Homo sapiens: one gene and its partners. Each later gene encodes a partner of the first gene's protein in a complex. Links are inferred from orthologs where the notes say so. Each region holds a gene or a part of one and is shown on either strand. Other genes may lie near its edges.

Evidence for each region.
Region 2: the proteins of CLTC (region 1) and CLTB are in contact, whole or in part, in a cryo-EM structure (PDB 6SCT), measured with the Sus scrofa proteins. The link is inferred for Homo sapiens from one-to-one orthologs. Residues at the interface, in NP_001139599.1 of Sus scrofa: Gln1291, Arg1293, Gly1294, Phe1296, Lys1326, Phe1327, Gln1354, Ala1355, His1356, Pro1382, Thr1383, Glu1413, Phe1414, Lys1415, Pro1416, Leu1417, Gln1444, Pro1446, Leu1447, Thr1473, Glu1474, Glu1475, Glu1503, Leu1504, Ile1505, Arg1508, Leu1533, Lys1535, Met1538, Lys1562; in XP_005661527.2 of Sus scrofa: Pro100, Ser102, Trp106, Gln110, Leu114, Ser121, Thr124, Glu125, Trp128, Arg129, Ala132, Asp135, Leu136, Trp139, Val147, Asn150, Lys151, Asn154, Arg155, Asp158, Tyr162, Glu191, Trp192, Lys194, Val195, Leu198, Cys199, Asp200, Phe201, Cys209.
Region 3: the proteins of CLTC (region 1) and GTSE1 are in contact, whole or in part, in a crystal structure (PDB 6QNP), measured with the Homo sapiens proteins. Residues at the interface, in NP_004850.1 of Homo sapiens: Val50, Arg64, Pro65, Ile66, Ser67, Ala68, Leu82, Lys83, Ala84, Thr87, Gln89, Phe91, Asn92, Ile93, Lys96, Ser97, Lys98, Asp143, Arg144, His145, Trp164, Gln182, Leu183, Tyr184, Ser185, Arg188, Lys189, Val190, Ser191, Gln192; in NP_057510.5 of Homo sapiens: Ser686, Arg687, Pro688, Leu689, Ile690, Asp691, Leu692, Met693, Ser707, Pro708, Val709, Val710, Gly711, Gln712, Leu713, Ile714, Asp715, Leu716, Ser718.

What each region holds. Positions count from the first base shown.
Region 1 is NC_000017.11:59,688,710-59,697,456, reverse strand, and holds the end of CLTC (clathrin heavy chain 1), read right to left. Parts: intron 6,822-8,747; coding exon 6,746-6,821; intron 3,730-6,745; coding exon 3,605-3,729; 3' UTR 501-3,604; downstream 1-500. Other genes in the region: PTRH2 (peptidyl-tRNA hydrolase 2, mitochondrial), read left to right, coding at 1-18. UniProt on the Homo sapiens protein: Clathrin is the major protein of the polyhedral coat of coated pits and vesicles. Two different adapter protein complexes link the clathrin lattice either to the plasma membrane or to the trans-Golgi network.
Region 2 is NC_000005.10:176,413,508-176,422,880, forward strand, and holds the start of CLTB (clathrin light chain B), read right to left. Parts: upstream 3,033-9,373; 5' UTR 2,857-3,032; coding exon 2,670-2,856; intron 1,557-2,669; exon of another isoform or gene 1,231-1,556; coding exon of another isoform or gene 946-1,230; intron 1-945. Other genes in the region: ARL10 (ADP-ribosylation factor-like protein 10), read left to right, coding at 946-1,230. UniProt on the Homo sapiens protein: Clathrin is the major protein of the polyhedral coat of coated pits and vesicles.
Region 3 is NC_000022.11:46,290,786-46,302,168, reverse strand, and holds the start of GTSE1 (G2 and S phase-expressed protein 1), read right to left. Parts: upstream 5,300-11,383; 5' UTR 5,238-5,299; exon of another isoform or gene 4,790-5,237; 5' UTR 4,769-4,789; coding exon 4,690-4,768; intron 1-4,689. Other genes in the region: TTC38 (tetratricopeptide repeat protein 38), read right to left, coding at 9,285-9,378. UniProt on the Homo sapiens protein: May be involved in p53-induced cell cycle arrest in G2/M phase by interfering with microtubule rearrangements that are required to enter mitosis. Overexpression delays G2/M phase progression.

The DNA of each region.
Region 1 (8,747 bases):
CACCTAAAACTTTACTAGGTGGACTTTGATATGACAACAACCCCTCCATCACAAGTGTTTGAAGCCTGTCAGATTCTAACAACAAAAGCTGAATTTCTTCACCCAACTTAAATGTTCTTGAGATGAAAATAAAACCTATTCCCATGTTCTATGGTTGGCAGTTGTCATCTTGGGCTTAAAAACAGTACTGTTGGTTAAATGGTCTTGGTGGTTCAAGTGAGAGGCTGAAACAGATATTTAAGATGAGAGAAACAGGTCATGATACAATTGGATTAAAATGGAGGAAACAGCATTTCCCTATACATGGTTAGGTCCCTTTGTGTTGGTAGCCCTTCCCCAAGACTATGCTGCTGTCCCCCTGGAGGTCGAGGTTCAAGGGTATTCCCACTAGAGGCAAGCTGCAGTTTGTTCCCCTGCTGTCACTTTTTGGGTGACTGATACAGCCACCCTCAATGGAGTCCCATGGTTTATAACCTGTTTAAATTTTGTCTCCAGGTTGAGTTTTATAGCATTGATACAACCTACTGTGCAGTGTTTCATGTTCACCTTCCCTGACCCATACTGGCCAAAGGTTAATCAGCAGTGGTTCTAAATCACAGCCTATTAAAGTTTCTCACTTCCCCCCTTTCTTGTAACAATGAAGCCACTGAAACTTGAGTAACCTTATGGACCTTAACAGATGGAAATGGGTGGGCCCAAGTAAGAATTTATGGTAACTGTAAAGTGAACGTAGTTTGTCATCCCTGCTAGTATTTTTTCCTAGAACTAACTTTGACAATTAAGGGTGCCTTTTTTCCCTTTTGATCTTTAGATACACTTGATACAATCCTAATAATTACTATGTTATACCAGTTACCCAGAATATGAGGCAGAGGGTCCCAACTCCCCAAGCCACATAGCTTCCTGATAGTCATCTTGTTAGAAACTATTTAAGCCTTCTTTTAGGAGGATACTGACAGTAATTTCTAAAATCAGTGTATCCCCAAGAACTGTAATGATGCCAGGGAGAATTTTGGTAATAGGCCCATTTTAAGTGGCTCCACCTCTCTATGGTTAACTGCAATATAAGCAGCGTTATAGCACCATCTCAAGGTCTAAGGTCATTGGTGGAGTATTGTGGGCAGAACACTAAAGACAGCCTTGAAATTTCTAATATTTGATTCATTTAATACACTTCGCACAGGCATATGACAGCACAGGAGAAAAATTGCAACTGTGAATGATGCCACAATAGCAACTATTTCTAAACAGAATGTTTACTGGCTGCAAAAGTGATGCAACAAAATGCAACGTTAAGACTGAGTTGAACTCAGTGCTAAGTGCATGATTCTGGCTCAGGTAATTTCTGAGGTTTGCCTCAGATAGACTGATGGCTCCAAATTCAAAGGTAGTGGCATTCCCAACAGGATGGCATGGGGTGGCTAAGTAACTGTCATGGCATATCTACTAAAAGGAATACTATGAAAATTCTGGTAATTGTGGATATATGCTTGTTTTCTAGTTCATCTGTACTTGGTATTTTATAGAACTCATAATCTTATAGTTTTCAAAGTATACTCTGCAGAACCCACAGGGTCTCCACAGAGTCAATGTTTTCATAATACTATTATTATTTTTTTTTTCTCTGTGTTGATATTTGCACTGAGGGTGCAAAAGCAGTGGTGGGGAAAACTGATGGCACCTCCCACAAATCAAAGCAGGGGCACCATTGTATTCTTCACTGACCTGCACTCACATTAAACACTTTCACTTAATGTCCTGGATGAAACTAAATAGGTTTTTTTGTTTTTTGAGACAAGAGTCTCATTCTGTCACCCAGGATGGAGTGCAGTGACGTGATCTTGGCTCACTACAACCTTTGCCTCACAGGTTCAAGTGATTCTCATGCCTCAGCCTCCTGCCTCCTGAGTAGCAGCTAGGATCTTATAGGCATCCACCATCACACCTGGCTGATTTTTTATTTTTAGTAGAGATGGAGTCACCATGTTGGTCAGGCTTGTCTCGAACTCCTGGCCTCAAGCAATCCGCCTGCCTCAGCCTCCCAAAGTGCTGGGATTACAGGCATGAGCCACCACACCTGGTGGGACAGGGATTTTAAGTTTTAAAAAACTCTTCTGTGGAGCTTATGTTAGGTAATTTGCCTAAGAGAGTTGTAAAGCAGTGCAAGACTAACTAGGCAAGGGGGTATGTGTAGCTATTGAGGATTAAGGGATAGTGAAATGAACTTTAGGAACATTCTCAGCCATAAGCAAGAGCTGGATTCACACAACCAATTTTTGAAAAAAATCAAGATACCCATAATTTGGGCACCTTTATAATTCATGATGAGAAAGAGCATGTTAACTACATGTTTAAATATATTTTATTTCAAGTTAATATAACAGCCATGATTTGTTCATTTAAGTGAAATGCTTCGATAAAAACCTCGGTGTCACTTGGTTAAAATATTGGAGACAGATTAAATGTTAAGCCACTATAGTAGTGACTCTGGTTCTTTAGACTATTGCATGTACCTTGTTAATGAACTACAGGAATGCACATTGATATAATGCACAATGTCTTCACATGTCTCAATCCTCATTCCTCTTCCTTTCATGCCTCCCTAATGCCTCAGTATCCAATATAAAACTACAAAAACTACTGTTCTTTTCGTTTGAGTGGTATTTAATTAAAACTTCAATTCTATGTTATTTCCACAGTCCAGTAATTTATTTTAAATTTGAGTAATTTCAAATTCCACAAACAAAACTGAAGAACAGCAATATTTTGTTTGAATTTCTCTCTTCTGTACACTCAGTGATCTAAAACACCACAATATCCAACATACACAAACCTCAGGGAAGGGTTAGTAAACACACACAAGATTGGAATCATGGTGCTCTTTGCTCCTGAATGGAATGGTCCCACAGAAAAAGCACAGGATACAGCACAACATAAGGGCACCTGTTACATATGAAGTGAGCAAAACATACTAGCATTTTCTATATGCATAATGGGGAAACCTGCATAGGTTAGAGGGCCTTTTACGCTCATTTAAAAATCAGGCAAGTTGTCTGTAACATTTTTCAATAATCTGGGAAGCACTGCAATCCAGTGTACGATGTGCTGATTAGTGTTGTCTTTGTTGGCACTGACAGTCTTGCATGGTCATATGCCAGTGTTTTTGCTTTAGCTTTTCTTTGAATAAAACAGATTTAAATGCATTTAGACAATACGTATTTGTAAGCTGTTTACATACACTAAATTTAAGAGATTCAATATTAGAGTTTCTTTGTTTCTTTAAACACTACAGAGTGCAAATCAGGTTCTTCACAACAGATTGAATATTGAGCAGTTCTTTAAAGAAAGAGGGGGAAGAAAAAAAGCCCAAGTGAATAAAACATTGAAACTATTCCCCTTCGAAAATAAATTCTAAAATGATGTGGAATGTGAAATAAGGTTTTAACATAGGTGATCCAAGTTTATAGTTAGAAACAAAAAGAAGTCCTTCATGAAATAAAGGTTACAAGAACACGTTGCCTGTTTTCCCCCATTATAAACTGAGAAGTGGGTAAAGACGATGTTTCAGTACGAAAATAGGTGACTACAGGATCAGCGCTTCATCTCACATGCTGTACCCAAAGCCAGGCTGTGGCTGTCCATACGGTGGTGCGGTATAACCATAACCAAAAGGTGCCTGGGGAGGGACGGCAACACTGGGTCCTGCTGTCAGCATCAACTGGGGCTGACCTACAGTAGAAGAAAACAAAAAGGAGCAGGGGGCAGGGGCAAGGAGGCAGGACAAACTGTTAGCATTTAGAACACTCCAATCTCCTCCACTCTAGCAACATAATCTCAACCTCAAATGAGTTGTATGGGGGGCACATTTGATTGCTACAATTTTAGCATGACAGTCTTACTCTAAGAAGGTTCCTACCTAAAAAGCCAACAAACAGTGCAGGGCCAAAGGCCAGAACTGCTTATGACTGAACACCGTATGCCTGACACTCTGTATACTTGACACATACCTACATGCATATTACACTTCATGACACAATAAAATCAGCACAATAAAAGAATTTTTTAAAAGACTTTTTAAAAAAAAAAAAAAAAAAAAGAATCTGGCTCTGTTGCCTAGGCTGGAGTGCAGTTGTGTAATCTCGGCTCACTGAAACCTCTGCCTCCTGGGTTCAAGTGATTCTCGTGCCTCAGCCTCCCGAGTAGCTGGGATTATGGGTGTGCGCCACCATGTCCAGCTAATTTTTGTATTTTTAGTAGAGACAGGGTTTTGCCACGTTGGCCAGGCTGGTATTGAACTCCTGGCCACAAGTGATCAGCCCATCTTGCCCTCCCAAAGTGCTGGGATTATAGGTGTGAGCCACCATGCTTGGTCTAAATGACATGTTTTTAACATAACTTTTAGAGTTACATTTAAATTTCTGATTTAAACATGTCTAAATGGCAATGAAACCAAATTCATTTATAGAAGATCCAGTACTAATTTAGAGACAGCAGTTAAATTAAAAATAAGACACATTTGGGCCGGGCGCGGTGGCTCACGCCTGTAATCCCAGCACCGTGGGAGGCCGAGGAGGGTGGATCATTAGGTCAGGAGTTGGACACCAGCGTGGCCGATATGGTGAAACCCCGTCTCTACTAAAAATACAAAAAAAATTAGCCGGGCGTGGTGGTGCATGCTTATAATCCCAGCTACTCAGCAGGTTGAGGCAGGAGAATCACTTGAACCCAGGAGGCAAAGGTTGCAGTGAGCCGAGATCACGCCACTGCACTCCAGCCTGGGTGACAGACGAGACCCCATCTTGGGGGAAAAAAAAAGACATATTCAGACATTCTTTAGGTATGAAATACATTAGAACATACACCCTCTATCAAATACTATGTTGACACTCTTTCTTATAAAGTTTAAATAGTTGTTGGCCATATACAGAAAACATGACCTGTAGAGAACTTGGCTTAGAGAGCGAAAACAAGTAACACCTCTCTCTACCCCTACAAAAGTATTTTTAACATCCCACTACAGTGTAAACCTAGATCAAGATTTCTCCTACACAAAGGACTTCATGTCTTTGCTTTTTGTGGTTAACAACCAAAGCTGTCTTCAGCAAACAAATTATTATTGGAAACCAGTTTATTATTATTTTTTGAGACGGAGTCTCGCTCTGTCGCCCAGGGAATGCAGTGGTGCAATTTTGGCTCACTGCAGCCTTTGCCTCCCAGGTTCAAGCAATTCTCCTGCCTCAGCCTCCCAAGTAGCTGGGACTACAGTTGCATGCCACCATGCCCAGCCAATTTTTGTACTTTTAGTAGAGATGGGGTTTCACCATGTTGGCCAGGATGGTCTTGATCTCCTGACCTCATGATCCGCCCACCTTGGCCTCCCAAAGTGCTGGGATTACAGGCGTGAGCCACTGCACCCAGCCAACAGAAACCAGTTTTTAAAAAGTCATCCCTAATCTTGATAATGACATCTACTTGAAATTCCAACCCAATTTTCAACTACCCATGAAAACACCCTGAAGGCAAGCCAAATTCAGTAGGTAACCCCAAAGTATTACACCCATCTTTTTTTTGTTCCTACTGTGTTTCCTATGTCTTTTTCACCTTTAAGGACTTGATGTGTTTCCTATCTCAAACATGTCAAACATCTTGCTCCCATCTCTAAGAACCCACTTTATCAAAACTATCCTGTCCTCTAAATTCCTAAAGTACTTTTTATCTACAGTAAAAAGGAGACAAAACCATAATAAGTGTATATATTATTATTTGTGTCAGTAGCCTGATATATAATGGTTATATATATATATATGTATATATATATATATATTTTTTTTTTAAGGCGGAGTCTTGCTCTGTCACCCAGGCTGGACTGCAGTGGCACGACCTCGGCTCACTGCAACCTCTGCCTCCCGGGTTCAAGCGATTCTCCTGCCTCAGCCTCCCAAGTAGCTGGGACTACAGGCATGTGCCACCACGCCCGGCTAATCTTTTGCATTTTTAGTAGACACGGCGATTCACTGTGTTAGCCAGGATGGTCTCAAGCTCCTGACCTTGTGATCCGCCCGCCTCAGCCTTCCAAAGTGCTGGGATTACAGGCATGAGCCACCGCACCCAGCCATAATGGTCATATTTTTATGTTCCCTCACCTGGTTATTGTGCTTCTACCTATACTCTTCAAAGTGATTGTTCAAATGAATCTGTTCACCAACTATGAAATGGAAAGGAGCAGTAATTCAGACATGTAGGTTTAAGAAGACATGAAATTGTCTTAAATATTCACTTGAGAGTTTGAAGATCCTATCTCTCTGGAAAGTTCTCAAATGGAAACTCTACCCAGTTCTCTGCCCCAGTTAGAATTTAAAATGAGGATGTATTCTTTATGTAAAGCATACTAAAGACAGCCTTGGCATGTTCTCTCACCTTTTGCTCTTTTGAAAATGGAATTCATCAATATTTCTTTTTCAGTAATTTATGAGCAGGTAATGCGTGAGGGACCAGATGATAGGAAAGATTCATGTTATGATTTTAAATGACTATTTTTGAGTTTTCTTGTATTTAAGATTATTTTAGTGAATAATATCAACACCTGCTTTATGACTTCTCAGAAAAAAAATCAGACAGTAGAGAGCAGTATTTCTTAGAAAGCCTTTTGCACTTTAGAAGCTTGTTGTATTCTATTTTGAGGCACAGTCTCTAAGTAATTAAATATTTGTCTAATGAATTTTTTGAGGTTACAGAGAGAGATTACCATAAACAATGGGTTGTGTCTCTGTAGCTTGTTCTTCTTCTTTTCTCAGTGATTCTGAAGCATCTAATTTATCCACCTGGAGAAAAACACATCATGTTAATTAGCACCCCAAAAGTATTATAAACCTAGGTTTATGGCAGAAAGTGGAAAAGCCTTAGTATGTTAAATTCTGTCAAAATAAAACAGACTAGAAAGAACATTCTCAGTCCCCCTCAAATTCAATGGCAATGTTCATACTTCAGTCCAGGTGGTTTTCAGCACTGTCATTATAAACCCTCAGGAAGGAGGGATTCAAAATGCCATAAAAGCTCATGCCAGACTAAAACTGGGCATGCTAGGATGCAGCCTGAGGGAGGGAGAAAACGAGAAGGAACCACTTTTCAAATGAAGTTTAAAACTGATCAGAGGTAATAATGAATTCATGGTCTGGCAATACTTCCCTCCCCAAAGCAAATGGTATTCAAAAAAGTGAAATGATCCTAGTGACTGGACAAGTATTTGGGCAGAATAAGCTATTCTTTTGCCAATTGTGTATAACTTCTGATGATATTGGTTATAGCTGCAGACTGAAGTTTAAGATTCAAGTGGCTCCATATTCAATCTTTTTGCATAAAGAAAGGCTGCATGTTTTAATACTGTGTGGGCTCTGTTATCTAAGAAGTAATCAGGAAAGCCTGATTTTGTCCCAAAAATGTTTGCTTTTAATTGAGCCAAAAGTAAATGGCTACTATATGCTAGCTACTCTTCAAAGTGGATAGTATCAGACAGAAGTAATTCTGTAGAGCAGGCCAAATGTATTAGTGAAAGAAAGGAATTAGAATGCCTGGATCCTTCCACTAACTAGTTGTGTGACCTTGGCAAACCATTGCACTGGCCCTCAAATTTCCTTTCCTATATAATGAGAAGATTGAACAAAATGATCTGCAGTTTCTTCTAGGGCTAACATGATTTGATTCTGTAATTCTGTAATGAATTAGACAGAAGTGACATTACAACCCTGGGACTAGAGAATCTCCTTCACTATACAAATTCCATTGCGCCTTTTACACTATATTTGTCTTTCAATATTTAAAAGCTGGTCTCTCAACCAAAGCCTTATACTTGGTCTGTCATTATACCTAAGTAAAACTAAATTTCAAATCTCAATGTTATCTATTACTGGTGGTTTTCAATGTCATAAATGTGCTGCATGAGACGGGGGGCCAAGGTGCAGGGGGAAACACTTTATGAATGCTCACTGCATGTTCTTCAAAAAGGCAAATTATGAAAAATCACTCAAAAAAAAAAATTGTAGACTTCAGTGGAAAAGTTTCTAAAAACCAGGTCCTAAAAAGATTAAGGCAGCACCTCATTTCTGTTTGAAACTATTAAAAAAGTATCTTTCAGTCTTCACATAGGCCATTAAGGTTAGGGCACTGTTTTATATTTAATTGTTTCATATTAAATACCATAAATATGAGTCTAATCCATCTTAATTTGTTAGGGAACTGAAAGTTTGAGAAAAGTAAGCCTAAGTAGGCTCCTTCAGATGAAATGTGGTTTAATTTCTAGCCTAGGAAGATGGATTAGTTTACTTTTATACACTATTATCCTACTTTATAGTCTAAATGATGTGTTACAAATTACCCTAATATCAAATTAAAGACTATTATGTAGTATAAGTACCATATGAAATGTCCATTTTTTGGCATCCACACTTAGAACAAAAATTATTAGTTATAGAACTTAAAGCACAGCTCTGTGCCATCAAGGATCAGATGGGGTTTTGCTAACTAACCAGTATTCAAGAAAGAGCTACAGAAGTTATAAAGAAAAATACATGGATGCCTGTATATTAGTAACTTCTAAGAAAAAAGAAGAAAAATGAAACAACCAAAAAGCCACCACTGCATAATACATTTCCGGACTTCCAGGGAAAAGAATCTGAAGTGAACATGTGTTTAAAAGTTAAGGTCTGAATCAGATGTTGAACACAGAAGTCCTATTAGAGAAACACATGGAA
Region 2 (9,373 bases), on another chromosome or scaffold:
AGGCCTACACCAGATACCTCTTTCCCCAGGGGCAACTGAGCCCAGTGTCAGCACAGAGATTGCTAATCTGAGGACCCCAACATCTAAGAGAAGGTGCCTCAGAGGTACTGACTGGCGGCCGCTGCTAAGCCAGCTTTTGCCCAGCTCTCAGCAGGCCAGGGCGCTTTTTCTCTGCCCCATCCAGGCTCCTGGCACACATCCCTGGTCAGGGGAAGATTACCTGTTCAGCACTGCATAGGCTGAGAAGGTCAGATCAATTCTAGCCCATCTGGCCATCCACTGAGCCGCCATCCCTCAACACCTCCCTGCTCCCCGATCCAACTAAGGAGGGCAGCTGAGCCTTTGCAGAGTCAGCAGGTATGCGCCTGGGAGACCCTCAGAAGGCTGTATCCCCGGCACCTCCCTGGAAGAAGCGAGCGTGTCATTGTTTCTCTCCCTGTCACCTCTGGTCTGAGGCCAATTTGTGCCCCACCCCTGCCAAGGACAGAACTTGCCATCCAGACTGTAAGTCCCTGGAGCCCCACCATCCTGGGAGAGGCCACAACCTGCTCAGCTCCCTCAGGCATCTGGCTGCCCTCAGCCTGAATCCCATCTTTTCTCTCCTGAGGTTCTCACAATGGCTCCCCTCAGCAGGACCTCCCCACAAGGCCTCCCTCCTCTTCCCTGCACCCCGACCCCAACAGGCCCCAGTGAGCCAGACTGAGGAAAAGGGTGGTCTCACAGAGGTGTGGTCCAGTGAATACTGGTGCATTAACTGGGGCAGGCATTTCTTAGGAATTCCCTGGGACACGGCAGATTCTGTATTGAGGTGCTGGAAGCTTCCACTTCAGAAGCCCTCCATTGCTGTCTCAGATAGGTGGCAAAAGACCCCATGCTTCTCACCCCACATCCTATCTCCTGCCAGGGAGGTGACTGCTATAGAATCTTTTTTTTTTTTTTTTTGAGACAGGGTCTCACTCTGCTGCCCAGGCTGGAGTACAGAGACGTGATCACAGCACACGGCGACCTACCTACACCTCCCGGGCTCAAGCTATGCTCCTGCCTCAGCCTTCCCGAGCAGCTGGAACTACAACTACAGCTACATGCCACCATGCCTGGCTAATTTTTGTATGTTTTGTAGAGATGGGGTTTCACCATGTTGCCCAGGCTCCACAGCATTTGAAAGAGCATGGAGCCCAGAGTTGGGAGGCGTGGGATCAAGTCCTAGATTGGTCATTCCTGGCTGTGTGACTCTGGGCAAGATACTCAGATTCTCTGGGCCACCGGTTTCTTGCATGTTACAAAAGCCTGGTTACATTTCTCATATCAAGGAGATACAGAGTTGCTTCAAACTCCTCAGCCACAGGAACTGTCTTATTCATTTCTGTATCCCCAGCGTCCTGACACACAGTAGGTGCTCAGTAAACGTTGAATGGATACAAACATGACTGTGAAGAGCCTTGTAAACATCATTAACCAAAATATGTCTATATGTATATATGTTAGCACTTACTACAACAGGCCCATAAACCTTTCCAAAATGACATCAACAGGAAGTAAAACCTGTTTTGGATGTACCCATGAAGGTGATATCTACTTTTTTACTAAATATTTTACAAAATCATTCTTGCTAGCCAGAACCAGGGCAGAAACATCATTGATAAAGATGATTTCACAGGGACTAGGCCCTGAACACTGAGGTCTGAAGCCAATCACAGTAAATCATAATAGCCCCGGACCACCTTTGGAAAACCATTAAGTCGACAACTACAAAACCCTGAAGGGCCCTACCGCATCTGACTGATGCCTCTTTGTGGCCCACACTCCGGTGTCTAACTCAGAGCCAGACACTTGGTAGGCAGTGTGGTCAGGTGGAGAGGGCTTCAAGTCCGACAGGAACAGGTTTAAATTCACGGCCAGGTGTGGTGACTCACACCTGTAATCCCAACACTTTAGGAGGCAGAGGTGGGAGGATTGCTTGAGCCCAGGAGCTCAAGACCAGTCTGGGCAACATAGCGAGACCCCATCTCAAAAAAAGGAAAAGAAAAAATATATATGTAAAAGAAAAAGAAACAGGTTTAAATTCTTGATCTGCCACTTACTAGTTATTTCAATAGCATACTCCCTTGAGCCTCAGTTTTACCATCTCTGAAATGGGTTCAATCACGTGTATGAAGTGATTAAATGTAACCAAGGCGCTTAGCCCAGCGACTGCCGAATGCCAGGCGGTCACCGGGGAAGGTTAGTGAGTTCCTGGAGCACCCAGGATCCTCTTTTTTCCCAGCTGCAGGAGAGAGCTAAGCCTGAGGGGCCAGGAGGGCTGTGTTCTGCCCACACCTGCACACTTAGCTGGGAGCCTGGGACACCCAGGCTATTAGGAGGCTCAGGAGGGACTCTCAAAACTGAGGTGGGGTTGGATTCCAGAGCCGGGCAGTGGGGAAGCTGGCCTGGGGATGAAATGTCATGACCGAATTCCTGTCCCGGGAGTCACCAGATCCACAGCCCCAGGCGAGGCCTCATCCCCAGCTCGGAAGTCCTACATGGAGATCTCCAAGAAGATTCTTCCCCACGTCTCCCAGCTCCTGCCCCGGGTGGCCTAGAGCAGGCTCTCTTCCCTGTGCCCCTGGGCCCCGGCCGGGGTCCCCCGGGTGCGCGCCCTGAGCCCCTCTCCAGGCCCCGCGCTGACTCACCCCCACTCGTGGGGCCCGGCTGCGCGGGGGCCGCATGGCTGCCGGCAGGTGCCCCGAAGCCCTCGTCGTTCTCTATGCCTGCAATCTCGCTCTCCTGCTGGGCCAGGAAGGCGGCCGCCGGGTCCTCCTCCGCCGCCTCCGGGGCACCGCTCTCCGACGACGAGAAGAAGCCAAAGTCATCAGCCATTTTCCCCGCGCCTCCGCCGGAGCCTCCGCTGCGCTCGGCTCTGCCCGCGCCTGCCCCGCGCTGCGTCCGGCGGCCGCGACGCTGTCACCCGAGCCGCGGGGGAGCCGGCGTCGGCGGGGACGGGCTTGGCGCGGACCGCACTTCCTCTCCGCCACCGGGCCCGGCTGGCTGTCACTGCGGTGCGGGCGCCGCGGCGGGAGGAGCGGAGCCGGAATGCGGTGACGTCACCGCGGGGGCGGGGCCGCAGGGCCGGGAGGTCGCCGAGCAGCGGCCGCAGGAGGGCGCCTCAGGACTGGGCGCAGCGCTGGGCCCGGGACCGGCGCGGCGCTTCCCTCCCTCCGCAGCGGCGCCCAGCTGCTCGCGTCGAGGACACCTGGGCTAGGCACTGCTCCCGCCCGGCCTGGAGGCGAAACGCAGGGCACAGAGTGGCCGTACCGTGCACAGAGCTGCGACAGGAGGCCACCTCTGGCCTCGGGAGCGCAGACCTGGCTCCTGATTCATTCTGCAGAAGTTTCTTCTCCTAGGTTGGGATGTCATGCACCTCATTCTATGAGCCTCCGCCTCTGTAAGAAGAGGAAAATTGAGGCTGGGAAAGGCTGCCCCGCACCTTTTCATGCAAGTCCAGGTCCTTTCCCACTAGGCCGTGTTGTTTTGTGTATTTTTTTGTGTATCTCCCTTGAGGAGGCTTCAGTTCATACGACCAGAGTTTGGATGGCCAGCTAGGCCCCTTAAATGTCCTTTAGGTATGAACCAGCCTGAGAAAGGCAGACCTGGTTTACCCAGGCAGCCTACCACTCTCCACGCTGCCCGCTGCCCTCTGTGAACAGGCTCTGAATGCCTCCTCCCTGCCTGCGCTTTGCCAAGCACCAGGACAGCAACGTTTTATAAAATCCAGCCATGGCCATGCGGAGATTACAATCCGGTGAGACCAACAGATGGCAAATGGCCTGTCAAAGCACTGTGTGTGAGGCGCTGTGACATTTAAACACGGGGTATAGGGAGACGATGCAAAGAAACACCATGGGATTTGGGCTGTCTGCTATTTCTAATGTGGGACTTGAAAGGCAACTATGAAATATGGACTGGAAGAGCGAAAGGAAAGATGTGCCGCCAAGTTGGGGGTGGAAGTGGAGTTGGGGTGAAGGGACCTTCCAGGTGTTTTTTTTTTTTTCTTTTTAATTTTTTTATTTAGAGACAGGGCCTCGCTATATTAACTGGGCTGGTCTTGAACTGCTGGCCTCAGGGGATCCTCCTGCCTTGGTCTCCCAAAACACTGGGATTACATGTGTGAGCTACCAAGCCCAGCTGGAACTTTCAGTTTAATTGGTAACAACTTGAGCACCTTTTGATGTTACTGTTTTTGGGGGGGTTTTTATTGTTTTATTTAATTAAATTAATGTATTTATTTATTGCTGTCCATTTGCATGGTTTTGTTGTTGTTGTTTGTTTGTTTTTTGTTTTGAGACAGGATCTTACTCTTGCCCAGGCTAGAGTGTAGTGGTACGATTATAGTTCACTACAGCTTCAACTCCTGGGCTCAAGTGATCCTCTCATCCTCAGACTTCCAAAGAGCTGGGATTACAGGCATGAGCCAACACACCTGGCCTTTTTGATGTTATTGTAAGTGGAAGTTTTATCTTCTTTTTTGATTGCGTATTGTTAATGCATAGAAATTTAACTGATTTTTGTGCATTGGCTTTGTATCCTGCTGCTTTGCTGAATTCATTTATTAGCTCTAACATTTTTTGTGTGTGGAATATTTAGGGTTTTCTGCAGATAAGAGCTTATTAGCCAGGTGCCATGGCTCATACCTGTAATCCCAGCACTTTGGGAGGTGGAAGTGGGTGGATAGATTGAGCCCAGGAGTTTGAGACCAGTCTGGACAACGTGGCAAAACCCCATCACTACTAAAACTACAAAAAATTAGCCAGACATGGTGGTATGGTGCCCGTAGTCCCAGTTACTCAGGAGGCCGAGGTGAGGGAATCACCTGAGCCCGGGAAGTCAAGGTTGCAGTGAGCTATGATTGTGTCAGAGGTGTGTGAATCAGAGCAAGTCCGTCGTAAACAGGATCTGGGTAAAATGAGGCTGAAACCTACTGGGCTGCATTCCCAGACGGTTAGGGCATTCTAAATCACAGGATGAGATAGGAGGTCAGCACAAAATACAAGTCATAAAGACCTTGCTGATAACACAGTTTGCAGTGTTGGGCAAGGTGGCCCACGCCTGTAATCCCAGCACTTTGGGAGGCCAAGGTGGGCGGATTGTGAGGTCAGGAGTTTGCGACCAGCCTGGTCAATATAGTGAAACCCCGTCTCTACTAAAAATACAAAAAATTAGCTGGGCATGGTGGCAGGTGCCTGTAATCCCAGCTACTTGGGAGGCTGAGGCAGGAGAATTGCTTGAACCCGGGAGGCGGAGGTTACAGTGAGCCGAGATCTCACCACTGCACTCCAGCCTGGGTGACAGTGCAAGACTCAGTCTCAAAAAACAAACAAACCAACAAACAACAACAACAAAAACCAGGTTGCAGTAAAGGAGCCAGCCAAAACCCACCAAAACCAAAATGGTGACAAGAGTGACCTCTGGTCATCCTCACTCCCACCAGTGCCAGGACAGTTTACAAATGCCATGGCAACATCAGGAAGTTACCCTATACGGTCTAAAAAGGGAAGGCACGAATAATCCACCCCTTGTTTAGCATTTCATCAAGAAATGGCCATGAAAATATGCAACCAGCAGTCCTTGGGGCTGCTCTGTCTATGGAGTAGCCATTCTTCTATTCCTTTACTTTCTTTTTCTTTTTTTGAGGTGGAGTCTCGCTCTGTTGCCCAGGCTGGAGTGCAGTGGTGCGATCTCGGCTCACTGCAAGCTCCACCTCCCGGGTTCACGCCATTCTCCTGCCTCAGCCTCCCAAGTAGCTGGGACTACAGGAGCCTGCCACCATGCTCAGCTAATTTTTTTTTTTTTTGTATTTTTAGTAGAGACGGGGTTTCACCCTGTTAGCCAGGATGGTCTCGATCTCTTGACTTCATGATCTGTCCACCTCGGCCTGCCAAAGTGCTGGGATTACAGGCGTGAGCCACCGTGCCCGGCCCCTCCTTTACTTTCTTAATAAACTTGTTTTCGCTTTGCACCAAGGACTCACCCTGAATTCTTTCTTGCGTGAGATCCAAGAACCCTCTCTTGGGGTCTGGATTGGGACCCCTGTCCTATAACAATCACACCACTGCGCTCCAGCCTGGGCAATGAGAGTGAGACCCTGTCTCTAAATAAATAAATAGCATCTGCAAACAGAGATACTTCTTACTTTCCAATCTGGGTTGCTTTTATTTCTTTTTCTTGCCTAATTTCTCTGGCTAGGACTTCCAGTACTATGTTGAATAGAAATACCAAAAGTGGGCATCCTTCTGCACAAGTTGTCCAAATCAAACTGGAGTCACTTATGCCAAACCCTAGCAAAATGGACTCAGGAGGCCATAAATGAGGGGCTCCCATGCACACATGCCTATGATAGAAAATATTACAAGGACTGTCTGAGGCTGGGCACGGTGGCTCATGCCTGTAATCCCAACACTTTGGGATGCTGAGATGGGCGGATCACCTGAGGTCTGGAGTTCAAGACCAACCTAACATGATGAAACCCCGTCTCTACTAAAAATACAAAATTAGCTGGGTGTGGTGGCACACACCTGTAATCCCAGCTACTCAGGAGGCTAAGGCAGAAGAATTGCTTGAACCTGGGAGGCAGAGGTTGCAGTGAGCCGAGATTGCCCCATTGTACTCCAGCCTGGGCAACAAGAGCAAAACTCCGTCTCAAGAAAAAAAAAAAAACCCAACAACAACAACAACAAAAAACAAGGATTGTCTGAAACCACAATCTTGCACAAAGGCCGTCACACCCATGCACGAAGAATATTTCTGCAATGACACCTGCCCAGCAATTGCCTGTTCAATCTTGGAATAATGCTACCCTTGTTATCAATCCTTGTAGCCAAGGATAATTTTTTCAAAACAACTTACGTAGCCTTCCTCATTTTGCCTTTAAAACCCCTTTCCTTCCTTTTTCTCTCTGAGTGCCCCCCTCCATGGTTCACCATAGTACATGTATTCCCTGGGATGCAACTGTAAACAAGAAAGTATCACAGACAGGTCTCAATCAATTTAGAGGTTTATTTTGCCAAGGTTGCAGGCACACCCAAGAAGAAGAGACACAAGACACAGTATGATCTGTGGCATGCACTTTTTTCCAAAGAAGATTTTGAGGACTTCATTATTTAAAGGGGAAAAAGTGGGCAGGAGGAGAAAGAAGAAAGGGGAAAAAAAGGAAGGTAGACAAGTGAGATAAGCCATTGCATTCTTTTGAGGCTTTGATTAGAGCTCACTGAATCCATACGTTCCATGTGAAAAGGACAGGGTAGAGGAATAGTCAATTACATATTCATCTTGCACTCAGTAAATCTGTACATAAGATAAACAGAGAGTAGAGGAAGAGTTCAAATATGCATTTGTCTGACAGGGGCGTGGGGGGGATGATTTCTAGTCTCCTTTTGTCCCGCACCTGTGAAGATAAGCTGTTAATTTACATTGTCAGGGTGAGGGAGGCCACCTGGGGAGACATGTGGCCTTCTATCTTATACCTATCTGTTTAGGAACAAAAGGAAAGGCAGTTTTTTTGTGTGGCTTAGTTTCCAAGCTTAACTTTTCCTTTTGAGTAGTGAGTTTGAGGTCCTGAGATTTTATTTTCCTTTCACACAATCTGATATGGTTTGGCTGTGTCCCCTCCCAAATCTTATCTTGAATTCCCATATGTTGTAGGAGGGACCCGGTGGGAGGTAAATGAATCATGGAGGCAAGTCTTTCCTGTGCAGTTCTTGTGACAGTGAATAAGTCTTACAAGATCTGATGGTTTTATAAAGAGGAGTTCCCCTGCACAAGCTTTTCTCTCATTTTGCCTGCTGCCATCCATGTAAGACATTAGTTGCTCCTCCTTGCCTTCCACTATGATTGTGTACTTCCCCAGCCACTTGGAACTGTAAGTCCATTAAACCTCTTTCTTTTGTAAATTGCCCAGTCTCAGGAATGTCTTTGTCAGTAGCATGAAAATGGACTAATATACAATTTGTCATTCATTCCCAAGTAATCTCACTTTTTCTTAGAGCCACTCTCCCTGTCGTTATTTTAGGTTGACTCTCTACTTGCTCCTGATCCTAGTGGATGAGCTTTCAGTCTTCCACCATGGAGTATGATGTTTGCTGTGGATTTCTTTTCTTTTCTTTTTTATAGAGCTGGGTCTCACTATGTTGCTCAAGCTGGTCTCAAACTACTGGGCTTAAGTGATCCTCCTGCCTCTGCCTCCCAAAAAGTGTTGGCATTATAGGTGTGAGCCACCATACCTGGCCAGATTTTTCATATATGGCTTTTGTTACATTATATAACTACCTTCTGTTCCTACTTTATTGACTGTTTTTATCATGAAAGGGTGTTGAATTTTGCCAAATGTTTTTTCTGCTCTATTGAGATGATCGCATGGTTTTTTTTTTTTTTTTGAGACGGGGTCTCGCTCTGTCACCCAGGCTGGAGTGCAGTAGCACGATCTCGGCTCACTGCAAGCTCCGCCTCCTGGGTTCACGCCATTCTCCTGCCTCAGCCTCCTGAGTAGCTGGGACTACAGGCGCCCGCCACCACGCCTGGCTAATTTTTTTGTATTTTTAGTAGAGACGGGGTTTCACTGTGTTAGCCAGGATGGTCTCGATCTCCTGACCTCGTGATCCGCCCACCTCGGCCTCCAAAAGTGCTGGAATTACAGGCGTGAGCCACCGTGCCCAGCCGTGTTTTTTAAATTAATTCAGTTAATGCAGTACATTACATTGATTGATTCTTGTATGGTGAACCACCCTTGCATTCTGGGTGTAAACCCCATTGGTCAAGGTACACAATCCTTTTATTGTGCTGTTGAATTCGGTTACTGAGTATTTTGCTGAGGATTTTTGCATCAATGTTCACAAGAGATAATGATCCATAGTTTTCTTTTCTACTAGTGTCTTCTTTTTTTCATGCTATTACTGGGACTTGTAGTGTCTTTATCTGGCTTTGGTATCAGCATAATGCTGGCATCATAGAAAGAGTTAGGAAGTGTTCTCTTCAATTTCTGTGAGAAGTTTGAGAAGAGTTGGTTCTTCTTTAAATGTTTAATGGAATTCACCAGTGAAGCCATTAGATCCTGGGCTTTTCTTTGTCAGGAGATTTTTGATTACCGATCCAATCTCACTAGTTATAGGTTTACTCAGATTTTCTATTTCTTTATGGTTTAGTCTTGATAGGTTTTTGTGTTTCTAGCAATTGTAATGGTGTGATCTCGGCTCACCGCAACCTCCACCTCCCAGGTTCAAGCGATTCTCCCTCCTGCCTCAGCCTTCTGAGTAGCTGGGATTACAGGTGTGTGCCACCACACCTGGCTAATTTTGTATTTTTAGTAGGGACAGGGTTGCTCCATGTTGGTCAGGCTGGTCTCACA
Region 3 (11,383 bases), on another chromosome or scaffold:
AAAACAAAACATTCTTTTTTATTTTTCTTTATTTACTTTTTTTGAGACGGAGTTTCACTCTTGTTGCTCAGGCTGGAGTGCAATGGCGCGATCTTGGCTCACCGCAACCTCTGCCTCCTGGGTTCAAGCGATTCTCCTGCCCTAGCCTCCCAAGTAGCTGGGATCAGTATGAACCAGCATGTCTGGCTAATTTTGTATTTTTAGTAGAGACGGGGTTTCTGCATGTTGGTCAGGCTGGTCTGGAACTCCCGATCTCAGGTGATCCGCCCACCCTGGCCTCCCAAAGTGTTGGGATGACAGGCGCAAGCCACCGCACCTGGCCGAAACATTCTTAAATAGATGGCAAGAAGTTCAGCCTCACTCAAAAATAAGAGTAATGAGGCTGGGCGCTGTGGCTCCCACCTATAATCCCAGCACTTTGGAAGGTCGAGGCGGGTGGATCACCTGAGGTCAGGAGTTCGAGACCAGCCTGGCCAACATGGTGAAACCTCATCTTTACTAAAAATACAAAAAATTAGCCAGGCCTGGTGGCAGGTGCCTGTAATCCCAGCTACTTGGGAGGCTGAGGCAGGAGAATTGCTGGAACCTGAGAGGGGGAGTTTGCAGTGAGCCGAGATCGCACCATTGCACTCCAGCCTAGGGGACAAAAGGGAAACTCTGTCTTAAAAAAAAAAAAAAAAAGTATTAAAAATAAACTTGCTCTGAGAATGCAGTTTTCGCCTATATGACTGGCAAAACTCAAAGATGTATGAACTATAGGCAAGGTTGTGGGGAAAGAGACAATTTCTACACTGCTGGGGAAGGTGTAAATTATCACAGCTCTCTAGAGGGCCTGGCAGTACCTATCGAAGTAAGAAACACACACCCTCTTCGACCCAGCAAGTCTACTTCTGCAAGTGTATCCTACAGACACTCACAGGTGTGGAAAGCAATGTGTTGTGCAGTTACACGGTGTCCACAGTTATTTACTGCAGCATCATTGGTAACAGCAAGACTCTAGGCACAAACTAAATGTTCACCCACAGCAGATGAGATGAATGACATATCCCCAAGGTGGAACCCTATATAGGTACAAAAGCTAGTAATGCTCTTCATGTGTTGATACACAATATTCATCAAGATAAATTAAGCCTGAAAAACAAGATTCAGGACAGGGCTCTCCATGCTATATGGAAAGGGGGATGCAACACTCTATGCGTGTTGGCTTGCACCTGCACAAATTATGTCTGGAAGGATACCCAAGAGACTGATGACATCGATGGCCCTTGGAAGGGCAAGTAGGTGACTTAGAGATATAGAGAGGCAGACATTTCACTTTTTACACCTCTAAATTAGGAAGTCAATTTCAGAAACTTCTAATGGTCTGGCGTGGAAAAAGAATCCAGGACCAGAACTCAGGGAAGCAGTCTTCTGCTCCAGGCTCTGTGACTGGCTCCGAGGGGTCCCGGGCTGGCTGACTTGCTCATCCTGCAAACACATGAGCACCCACAACAGACCACATCCTTCGCTAGGTGCCAGGCAGGCTTGGGGTACATGCAGCCCACCCTGGAGGGTGCCTCAGGCAGTGCGGTGAGAGACATGTAGAGGTGGGAACACCTCTGAGAAAATATCAAAGCGTGTGTGAGAGGAACGGGTCAGAAGTCAGAGTGGCTGGAAGAGGTGAAAACACAAGTTGGGTCAGATCACAGAGGGTTTGCAAGCCATGGCAAGGAGCTTTTATTTTCTCCAAAGTGGGATAGGAAACTATTACCGGGCTTTAAGAAAAGAATTTTAGGCCTGGCGTGGTAGCTCATGCCTGTAATCCCAGCACAGTGGTAGGCTGAGGCAGGCGGATCACTTGAGGTCGAGTTCGAGACCGTCCTGACCAACATGGTGAAACCCCGTCTCTACTGAAAATACAAAACTTAGCTGGGCACGGTGGCTCATGCCTTTAATCCCAGCTACTCAGGAGGCTGAGGCAGGGGAATCACTTGAACCCAGGAGACGGAGGTTGCAGTGAGCCAAGATGTCGCCACTGCACTCCAGCCTGGTGACAGAACGAGACTCCATCTCAAAAAGAAAAAAAAGGCTGAGCACAGTGGCTCATGCCTGTAATCCCAGCACTTCCGGAGGCCCAGGCGGGCAGATCACGAGGTCAGGAGATTGAGACCATCCTGGCTAACACAGTGAAACCCCATCTCTACTAAAAAAAAAAAAAAAAAAAAAAAAATTAGCTGGGCGTGGTGGCGGGCGCCTGTAGTCCCAGATACTCAGGAGGCTGAGGCAGGAGAATTGCTTGAACCCAAGAGGCGGAGGTTGCAGTAAGCCGAGATCACGCCACTGCACTCCAGCCTGGCCAACAGTGAGACTCTGTCTCAAAAAAAAAAAAGAAAAAGAAAAAAGAAAAGAAAAGAGCTTTATAATCTAACTTGTGTTTTTAAAAGGTGACGTTACTGTGTAGAAAGTGTATCCGAAAGGAAGCAGATAATATCCCCTGACATTACAAATGCACATATTAGCCAACGGGAAGTAGAAGCCGGTGAGACAGCGTGGCTGAGACCCAGACAGCAGCATGTGGATGGAGATGGAGAGTCTGTAGATGGATTCAGGATATCTTCTGAAGGTGGAGAAGACGTTAGCTGGTGATGGCATGAATGTAGGAGGTTCTCAGCTTGCACAGCTGGGTGAAATGGAGAAATAAAATGGGTGATGAGAAAGACAAAAAGAACAGGGTATGCAGATGCAGAGGGGGTATGCCAAGTTTGAGATGAGACGTGCATGTGAAGACGCCAAATAGGCAGGTGAATATACAAGCCCAGAGCTCGGAGGAGAGGCTGCGCTCAAGACAAAACGTGGGTGCCGCAGAGAGCAGATACGCTGCACAGCTATTGGAATGCTGACCGCCCTGAGGGCGAAAGCACAAAGCGGTCCCAGAGCAGGTCTTGGGGAAATCAGCCTCAGAAGACAGCAGAGGGGGAGCCCCCGACAGAGAAAAGATACACCAGCCAGAGAGGCAGGAGGAAAAAACCAAGAGCGTCTTGGACTCCAAGCAAGGGAAGTTTCCAGAAGGACGAATGTTACTGAAAAGCTGACTGGCGATAGAAAAGTGAAAAGAGATTCAGCAATGTGGAAGTCGTCAACGACTGATGAAAGCAGCTTGAATGGAGTGGTAAGGACAGAAGCCGGAATGGGAGGGATTGAGAGGCGGAAAAAAATGGCATAACAAGTGAGAAAGCTCTCAAAGTTTGGCTTGGAAGGAGAAACACAGCAATGGAGAGGCAACGGAGGAGACGTGGCGACAAGTGAGACAAGGGAACATTATCTGTATGTGGATGCGCATGATCCAGTAGTGGACAGGGGAAAAGTAAGGAAATGAAGTCAGGTCAACGGAAGTGGGGAAGGCCTCAAGAAGGAGCAGGGGGTGCAGTATGCACGTGGAAAGGACATATTTGAAAGGAAGGACATGACAGGAAGGAGGAGAGGGGTGCAGAGGCAAGCGCCTTGCTAGATATGAAGATGCAACATTGATTTGTAAAGTCTCCAGGACAGTTCCTGCAAAATGGAGGCATTGAGGATGCTTGGGGCCAGGCGCGGTGGTTCACACCTGTAATCCCAGTACTTTGGGAGGCCTAGGCAGGTGGATCACCTGAGGTCAGGAGTTTGAGACCAGCCTGGCCAACATGGTAAAACCCCATCTCTACTAAAAATACAAAAATCAGCCAGGTGTGGTGGCGGGTGCCTGTAATCCCAGCTACTCGGGAGGCTGAGGCAGGAGAATCGCTTGAACCCGAAAGGCAGAGGTTGCAGTGAGCCAAGATCATGCCACTGCACTCCAGCCTGGGAGACAGAGTGAGACTTGGTCTCAAAAAGAAAGGATCCTTGGGTAGTGTGAGAAAACTACCCAAGGGATGTCAAAATGCTTTGTGAGGCTGGGTGAGGTGGCTCACACCTATAATCCTAGCACTTTGGGAGGCCGAGGCAGGCAGATTGCCTGAGCTCAGGAGTTCGAGACCAGCCTGGGCAACATGGCAAAACCCCGTCTCTGTTAAAAATACAAAAATGAGCCAGGTGTGGCAGCGGGTGCCTGTAATCCCAGTTACTAGGGAGGCTGAGGCAGGAGAATCCCTTCAACTCAGGAGAGAGAGGTTGCAGTGAGTACAGATCACGCCTTTGCACTCCAGCCTGGGTGAGAGAGCGAGACTCCGTCAATAAATAAATAAATAAATAAATAAAAACGCTTTGAGAGAAAAAGAGGGTGTGGCCTGTAACTCATTCTGTGAAGCTGTACCCTCACCTTGATACCCAAACCAGTCAAAGACACAAGAAGAAAGGGGTTTGGGGCCAGGCTTACTCATTAACATGGTCTCAAAGATCCTAAATAAGTCTTAGCAAACAGAAACCAGCGACAAACAAAAAAGAAAACATCGAATTCAATACAATAAATATTTGAGAGCCCACAAAGTGTTAGGTGCTGTTCAGGGCATGGGAGCACTGCGGTAAATAAAACGGATGAGAATCCTGGCTGTGATGAAACTTAAAATGGGGAGGAGGTGAAAGAAAACCAGAAAACGAAGGCAGATGTCATGTGTTTCACAGGTGCAGAGTACAAGTCGAGCACTTGAGAAAGAATTTCTCAGGGAAACATTAAATCACCCTCCATCTCTACTGAACATCCTGAACAACAACAGCGCCGCAGCAGCAAGGACTTGCCTTCCTTCTTAGGGTCATCCATGTTCACGTCCCCTGCCCGGCAGGCTGAAGGCTCATCGCGGCCGCCGCCTCCTTCCATGGAGAGAGCTGTCAGAAGTCACTGCAGGGTGGAACGGGGCCAGAAAGTGAGTACGTGTCAGGGCCCAGGGCTCCGGCTTCCTTCAGCCCTCGGCTCACAGAGGCAGAGAGAGCTGAAGGCCGCGGCCAGGTCTGGGAGAGGCGGCGCGGGGGCCGCTCTGAAATGATCGCATCCCAGGGGACCCCAGGGCCCGAGTGCCGCCAGGCCGGGAGTCAGCCCGAACGCCATCAGACGAGATAACGGAATTCTCGGCTTCTGGGCCAGAGTGTTGGGGGCTCTGTTTGCCTGGGGGGCAGCCCTAGACCTCCCGGCATCCCCGACCACGGCGCGAGGGGCCTCAGTGACCCCTGCTCGAGCCCAGGCCCGGCTCCTGGCGGGGCGCGGCCCCTCCCCGTCCCGAAAACGGCGGGCACCGCGCCGCACCGGGCCCACCGGGCAAGCCTCGCCCCCGACCCTGACCCCACCTTACCCAAAGCGGCAGACGATGCAGGACGCGCCTCCGGCACGGATTTAAACGCGGCGCCGGGAGACGCGGGTTGCCGATTGGTCGGTTTGAAAAGGGCTCCGAGAGGCGGCGGGCTGGGTGCGTCCTGGGTATTGTAGTCAGGACGCTGGTAAGAAGCGTCCAGTGCGCATGCGCACTGCTTCAGCGCAGCGAATGGCTCCGCACAGCGCCAGGGATCACCCACCCGGAAGTCTGCCCGGCCTGGCCGCCAAGTGTCACTAGGTATCCGCGTCAAGCCGGAACCATGTATAGCAGCTCCTTGTGTGTAGGGAGAAAGTTAAAACTGCCATCTAAGGGTGTCGATGGGAAGACTAAAAGTAGGCTCACCCACCTGCTGTGAAGCAGCGCGCGCGAGCTGTTACTAACAGTAGTGAAAAGCCGGGATCCCTGCCCCCGAGGCACGCACTGGGGCGCCGGCTGACCCAGAGACCTGAGGGAGACTCATTGCCGGAGCTGCACAGCCTGTGGGGCTGGAGGGGAACCGTCGCCCTTGGCGGGCTTCCCCAACCGCCAAGGCCTGAGGACCGCCGAGGGCGTGGCGGGAGCCTGTCCTCGGTTTTACAGGCCGGCTGGGGAGCTGCGTTGGAGGAGAGAGCCAGGGGCTGGGGCCCGGTGATGGAGCCTGCCTTGGGGAGTGCATGTGTTGGAGAGAGGTGGGAAGCAGATAGGATAACCCTGACCTGAGCCATGGAGACGCAAGGACAGGACTGGTAGACGGGTCAGTGGGCAGCAACTTAAGACTGACCTCGCTTGAGCCTTTGCCTGCGAACGAGGTATAATACCCACCTCGGGGGCTTGAGGATCAAATGAGGGGCTCCACCCACGGCAAAGTGTCACTAAGCGGGATGGAGGAGGATGCAGGAAGAGGAGTCTGGGAGGACCCGCTCTGAAAAGGATGGAACTCGAGAGCACCATTTTCAGGGACGAAGATAAGCTGTTTATTTGGGGCAGGCTGTGGGGAGAGCTGTGCAGCAAACAGCCACCCGGGGCCCAGGGCAGAGGCCTTCCAGGCTGGCTCGGGCACTTCTGGGTCCCATGTCCCTGGTTTTGCATCATCCATACCAATCACTCCATGTTGCTATGTTCCTTCACCAGAAGACTGGGGGCTCAAAAAGGGCAGGGCAGCCCTCACTCACCAGTCTCCCCAGCCTCACCCAGCTCAGCACAGGGCACCAGGCAGGGGCTGAGAGTGCTGGGGTAGGTGGGTGTGGTCAAACAGCTTGGAAAGAGTTTGGCCTGCTCATTGCATTCCCCTCAGCTCATCCTGGGGATGTCTGCTCATGGGAGAATGGCAGAGGGATCCCCAACAGTCATTCCTGATACTCCTCTCCCTGTATCATGTCAGCACATAGTAGGTGTGGCCTATGTATGGCAGATTCATTTCTGCCCCCAATAGGATTTGCTGTAGTTTGGATGTGTGTCCCCTCAAAATCTCATGTTGAAATGTGATCCCAATGTTGGAAGTGGGGCCTGGTGGGAAGTAATTGGGTCGTGAGGGCAGATCCCTTATGAATGGTTCAGCACCATCCCCTTGGTGATGAGTTCTTGCTTAGTTCACACAAGATCTGGTTATTTAAGAGTCTAAGACCTCCCCTTCTCTCTTACTCCTGCTCTCACTATGTGATATACTGGCTCCCCATCACCTTATGTCATGATCTTAAGCTTCCTGAGGTTGCACCAGAAGCAGATGCCAGCACCATACTTCCTGAAAAGCCTGCAGAACTGTGAGCCAATTAAACCTCTTTATAAATTACCTAGCGTCAGGTATTTCTTCATAGCAATGCAAGAAGGCCTAATACAGAGTTTGACTTCATTTATTTATGCCTTCATTCACCAACTTTCACTGACAGCTACTCAGTGCAGGCCATGTGCCAGGTGATGCTGGGGACAGATGCTGTCCCTGACCTGGAGAGGTCATGGCAGGGGTGCAAGAGCAAGGGCAAGTGCCAAGGGCTGAGGGGCACAGAGGCAGCACCCTCACCAGCCTGCAGTGGGGGTTGGCGGGTAGAAGGCTTCCTGGAGGAGGGACCAGGGTTCCCAATTGCACAGCCAAGTCATGTCTTCTTGCTTGGAACCAGGAGAGGGGAAGGAGGCTCCCCTTAGGATGTGTCCCTAGTTCTTGGGTAGAGAAGGCGCCTCTCTGGAAATACTACTATAATTACCCCTTTTCTTTCTTTCTTTTTTTTTTTTTTTGAGACGGAGTCTTGCTTTGTCGCCCAGGCTGGAGTGCAGTGGCGCGATCTCCGCTCACTGCAAGCTCTGCCTCCCGGGTTCACGCCATTCTCCTGCCTCAGCCTCCCGAGTAGCTGGGACTACAGGCGCCCACCACCATGCCCGGCTAATTTTTTGTATTTTTAATAGAGATGGGGTTTCACCGTGTTAGCCAGGATGGTCTTGATCTCCTGACCTCGTGATCTACCTGCCTCAGCCTCCCAAAGTGCTGGGATTACAGACGTGAGCCACTGCGCCCGACCTCCCATTTTCTTGACTAGATGCCCCACCTACTTTTTTTTTTTTTTCCCTTGAGATGGGAGTCTCGCTCTGTTGCCCAGACTGCAGTGCAATGGCACGATCTTGGCTCACTGCAATCACTGCCTCCCAGGTTCAAGTGATTCTCCTGCCTCAGCCTCCCGAGTAGCTGGGATTACAGACGTGTGCCACCATGCTCAGCTAATTTTTGTATTTTCAGTAGACACAGGGTTTCACCATGTTGGCCAGGCTGATCTCGAACTCCTGACATCAGGGGATCCACCCACCTCAGCCTCCCAAAGTGGTGGGATTACAGGCGTGAGCCACTGCGCCTGGCCTGCCCCACCTACCTTAAGTTCAAGGAGAAGCCATCTCCCCAGGACCCAGCCCCAGGCCTGCACCACAGATGCTCAAAGACTTGGAGGAACTGATGAATTCATTTTAATCACAGAAATTTGCCTGGGCTTGAGCAAACTGTGGGGACTCAATAGATTTGGAGGCCTCCTCTCCCTTCTGAGAGGCCTGCCTGCTTCCTGCCCTGATGAATCCCTAATTTCAGTACAAACTGAGGAACTTGAAAAACATCTGTGCACTGGGACCGCCCCTCACAGGAGGGCTGAAAGCAGCACAGCTGAGTCAGCGGCACATTCAGCAGGCGTTCAGTGGGGAAGCAGGAGACAGAGGCGGCGCTCACAGGACCCGCTCCAGGCTTGTCACAGCCACACATCACAGCACTTTGGGTTTTGCCACAACAGAGCAGCTCTGAGCTCAATCCTTGCACCTCAGAAGTGCATTTATGATTAAAATCATGCTCGACATGAAGCCCTGTTATGATGTGCAGTTTAAAAAGAGAAACGGGTCCAAATCAGCACCAACAGAGCCCCCCAGGGGGCTCCAAGACTCGCCCCAGAGACAGCAGAAGGACCCCATGTGCGCGCTGATCTGTAAGAAGGGTGGTGGATGCAGCAGCAGGGGGCTGCGTCCAAAGGCAGCAGGTGGGGGCCTCTCATAGTGTGACCCTGGGCAGGCCACTCCCCTACCCCGGTACCCTCACCTGAAAAATGGGACAGCAACACAATGAGACAACAGAGACTGTCTAGAATATAAAGAAAAGAATGAAAAGGTCCATCCCAAGGGCAGCCTGGTGGGGACGGGGACAGGCAGTGGGGGGAGGCTGCCTCTGGAAGACCTGTCCCAGCAGAATCAGCCCCCACCTCTGCCCTGCCTTCCAACCTTTGAACCACCAGGCAGTAGACACATTCCCCTGGGAAACAGAATTTGCAAGGCAGGTGGAAAGAGCAGCACTCACACTGGCTGTGACTGCTGAAAAATGCTCATTGGCCCTTCTCGAGGACTGAAAGGAGATTCGGAATCACATTTAAAATTAACCCGTGACCCACTTCCTGTAAAACTGAAGATCACCCTCTAACAGCCCTAACAAACAGGCTCTGGCCGTCTCCTGACCCTAACCCGGTGGAGCAGCTGACTGGACGCAGTGACGCCACCACTGAGGTTCTGCAGGGTGGAGGCGGCCAGGCTGGCTCACTGCATGAGGTGGACGGTAGCTGCCTTGCGGATGAGCCGCTCGGTCAGGGGCGAGTTGGGCTTCAAGGCATCACGCTCCATCAGAAGGCTCCTGTGGAAACAGACACAGAGGTCCTGTTACAGAACCTTCTAGAGGGATGTGGGGCCTGGTGGTCCCTTGGTCCCAAGGCAGAACACAGGCAGGCTAGACTGCGGCACTGAGGGAACAGCAAGGGCCAAGGCCCAGGGGCAGGAGGCCTGGCCTCAGTTTGGGGAGAGGTGAGGATGGGAGGGCACAGACCTCCAGTGCAGGAAGCCACACCCGAGATGGGGCACAACAGGTGGCAGTGGGGAAAACCCAGGTTTGAAGAGAGAAGACCCAGGTACGGTTTGAGGTAAAGACCCTGCTGTGGACTGAATGTCTGTGTCCAGGCTAAATGTATATGTTGAAGCCCAAATGCCCAAGGTGATGGTATTAAGAACAGGGCCTCTTGGAGGTGATTAAGTCATGAGGGTGGGGCCCTTGTGAATGGGATTAGTGCCCTTATAAGAAGAGATAGGTGTGGTGGCTCACCCCTGTAATCCCTGCACGATGGAAGGATGAGGCAGGAAGATTCCTTGAGCCCAGGAGTTTGAGTTTACAGTGAACTGTGATCACACCACTGCATTCCAACCTGGATGACCGAGTGAGACCTTGCCTCTAAAAATATAAAAAAATTTAAAAAGAAAGAAGAAAGAAGAGACGTGAAAGAATTAGCACTCAAAGGAAAGGTCATGTGAGGACACAGCAAGAAAGTGGCTGTCCACAAGCCAGGAAGAGAGGCCTCAGCAGAAACTGAACCCAGCCAGGCCTTGTTCCTGGACATTCCAGCCTCCAGAACTGTGAGACAGTGCATGCCTACTGTGCAAGCCGCCCAGACTGTGGCACTTTTATTTTTTAATTTTTTGAGATAGAATCTCCCTCGGTCACTCAGGCTGGAGTGCAATGACGCGATCTCGGCTCACTGCAACCTCCACCTCCCAGGTTCAAGCGATTCTCCTGCCTCAGGCTCCCGACTAGCCGGGATTACAGGTACCCACCACCACGCCCGGCTAATTTTTTGTATTTTTAGTAGAGGCGGAGTTTCACCATATTAGCCAGGCTGGTCTTGAACTCCTGACCTCAGGTGATCCACCCGCCTTGGCCTCCGAAAGTGCTGGGATTACAGGCATGAGCCACCGTGCCCGGCCTGTCTGTGGCACTTTTAAAATAACAACCCAAACTGACTAAGACAGCCCCCAAACACCTGAAAACAGTGGTTCTAGAGGGCGTGGGTGGTGTGAAGGGGCTGGGGCCGGGAACTCATTGTGGGGGGCACCATGGCTGTGGGTGGAAGGTTTCCCACCTTGGGGGCTGGTGAGCTGTGCTGATGGCCCCATGGATGCTGCCTGGTAGCAGGACAGGACTTGGAGAGAAGGCCCCCTCCACGTCTCCTAATGCAGTCGGCTCCCTGTGCAGCCTGCTCTCCCCCTGCCCTCCCCCACTGGGCCCCGCAGAAGGCCACATCGGCACTGCCGCACTGCCCCACAGATGTCACCCCAGCTCCATCCTCAGCCCTCCTGTCCACACAGCCACTTTCCCCACCGCTGCTGCCAGAGGCACCAACTCCCACCCACACCACAGCCTGAGCTCCCCAGGGGGCTTGACCACCAAAGAAACACGCATGGTTTTGTCTACAGCCATGGAAGGGGAAAGCGGGGAGCATGCGTCCAAGACATTTTACAGTTCTAGGCGGTTCCAGTGCTGCCAGCCAGACCTGTTTCATGAGTACCACAGAACCTGTACAGCTCAGTTTGGGTAACCCTGCCTGGAGGGAGCTGCGCTGGTGCACCTGCGCCTAAACCACTGGGCTTGTCACCAGCCAAGGGCCTCCTGTGGACCCGGGCTGCCACCTGCTCTCACAGCACACCTTCCCCACCAGGCACCCCATGACTCCTCTATTCTTCCTTTCACTTATGTCTGAGGGTGGCAGGGACATGGGCAAGGAGAGGTGTCAAACTCGCCGCTCAGGCACACGGGCTACGCAGCTGCTGGCCAAGAGCTCAGCAGCCTAAGTGGAGGGAGGCAAGCTGGGCCA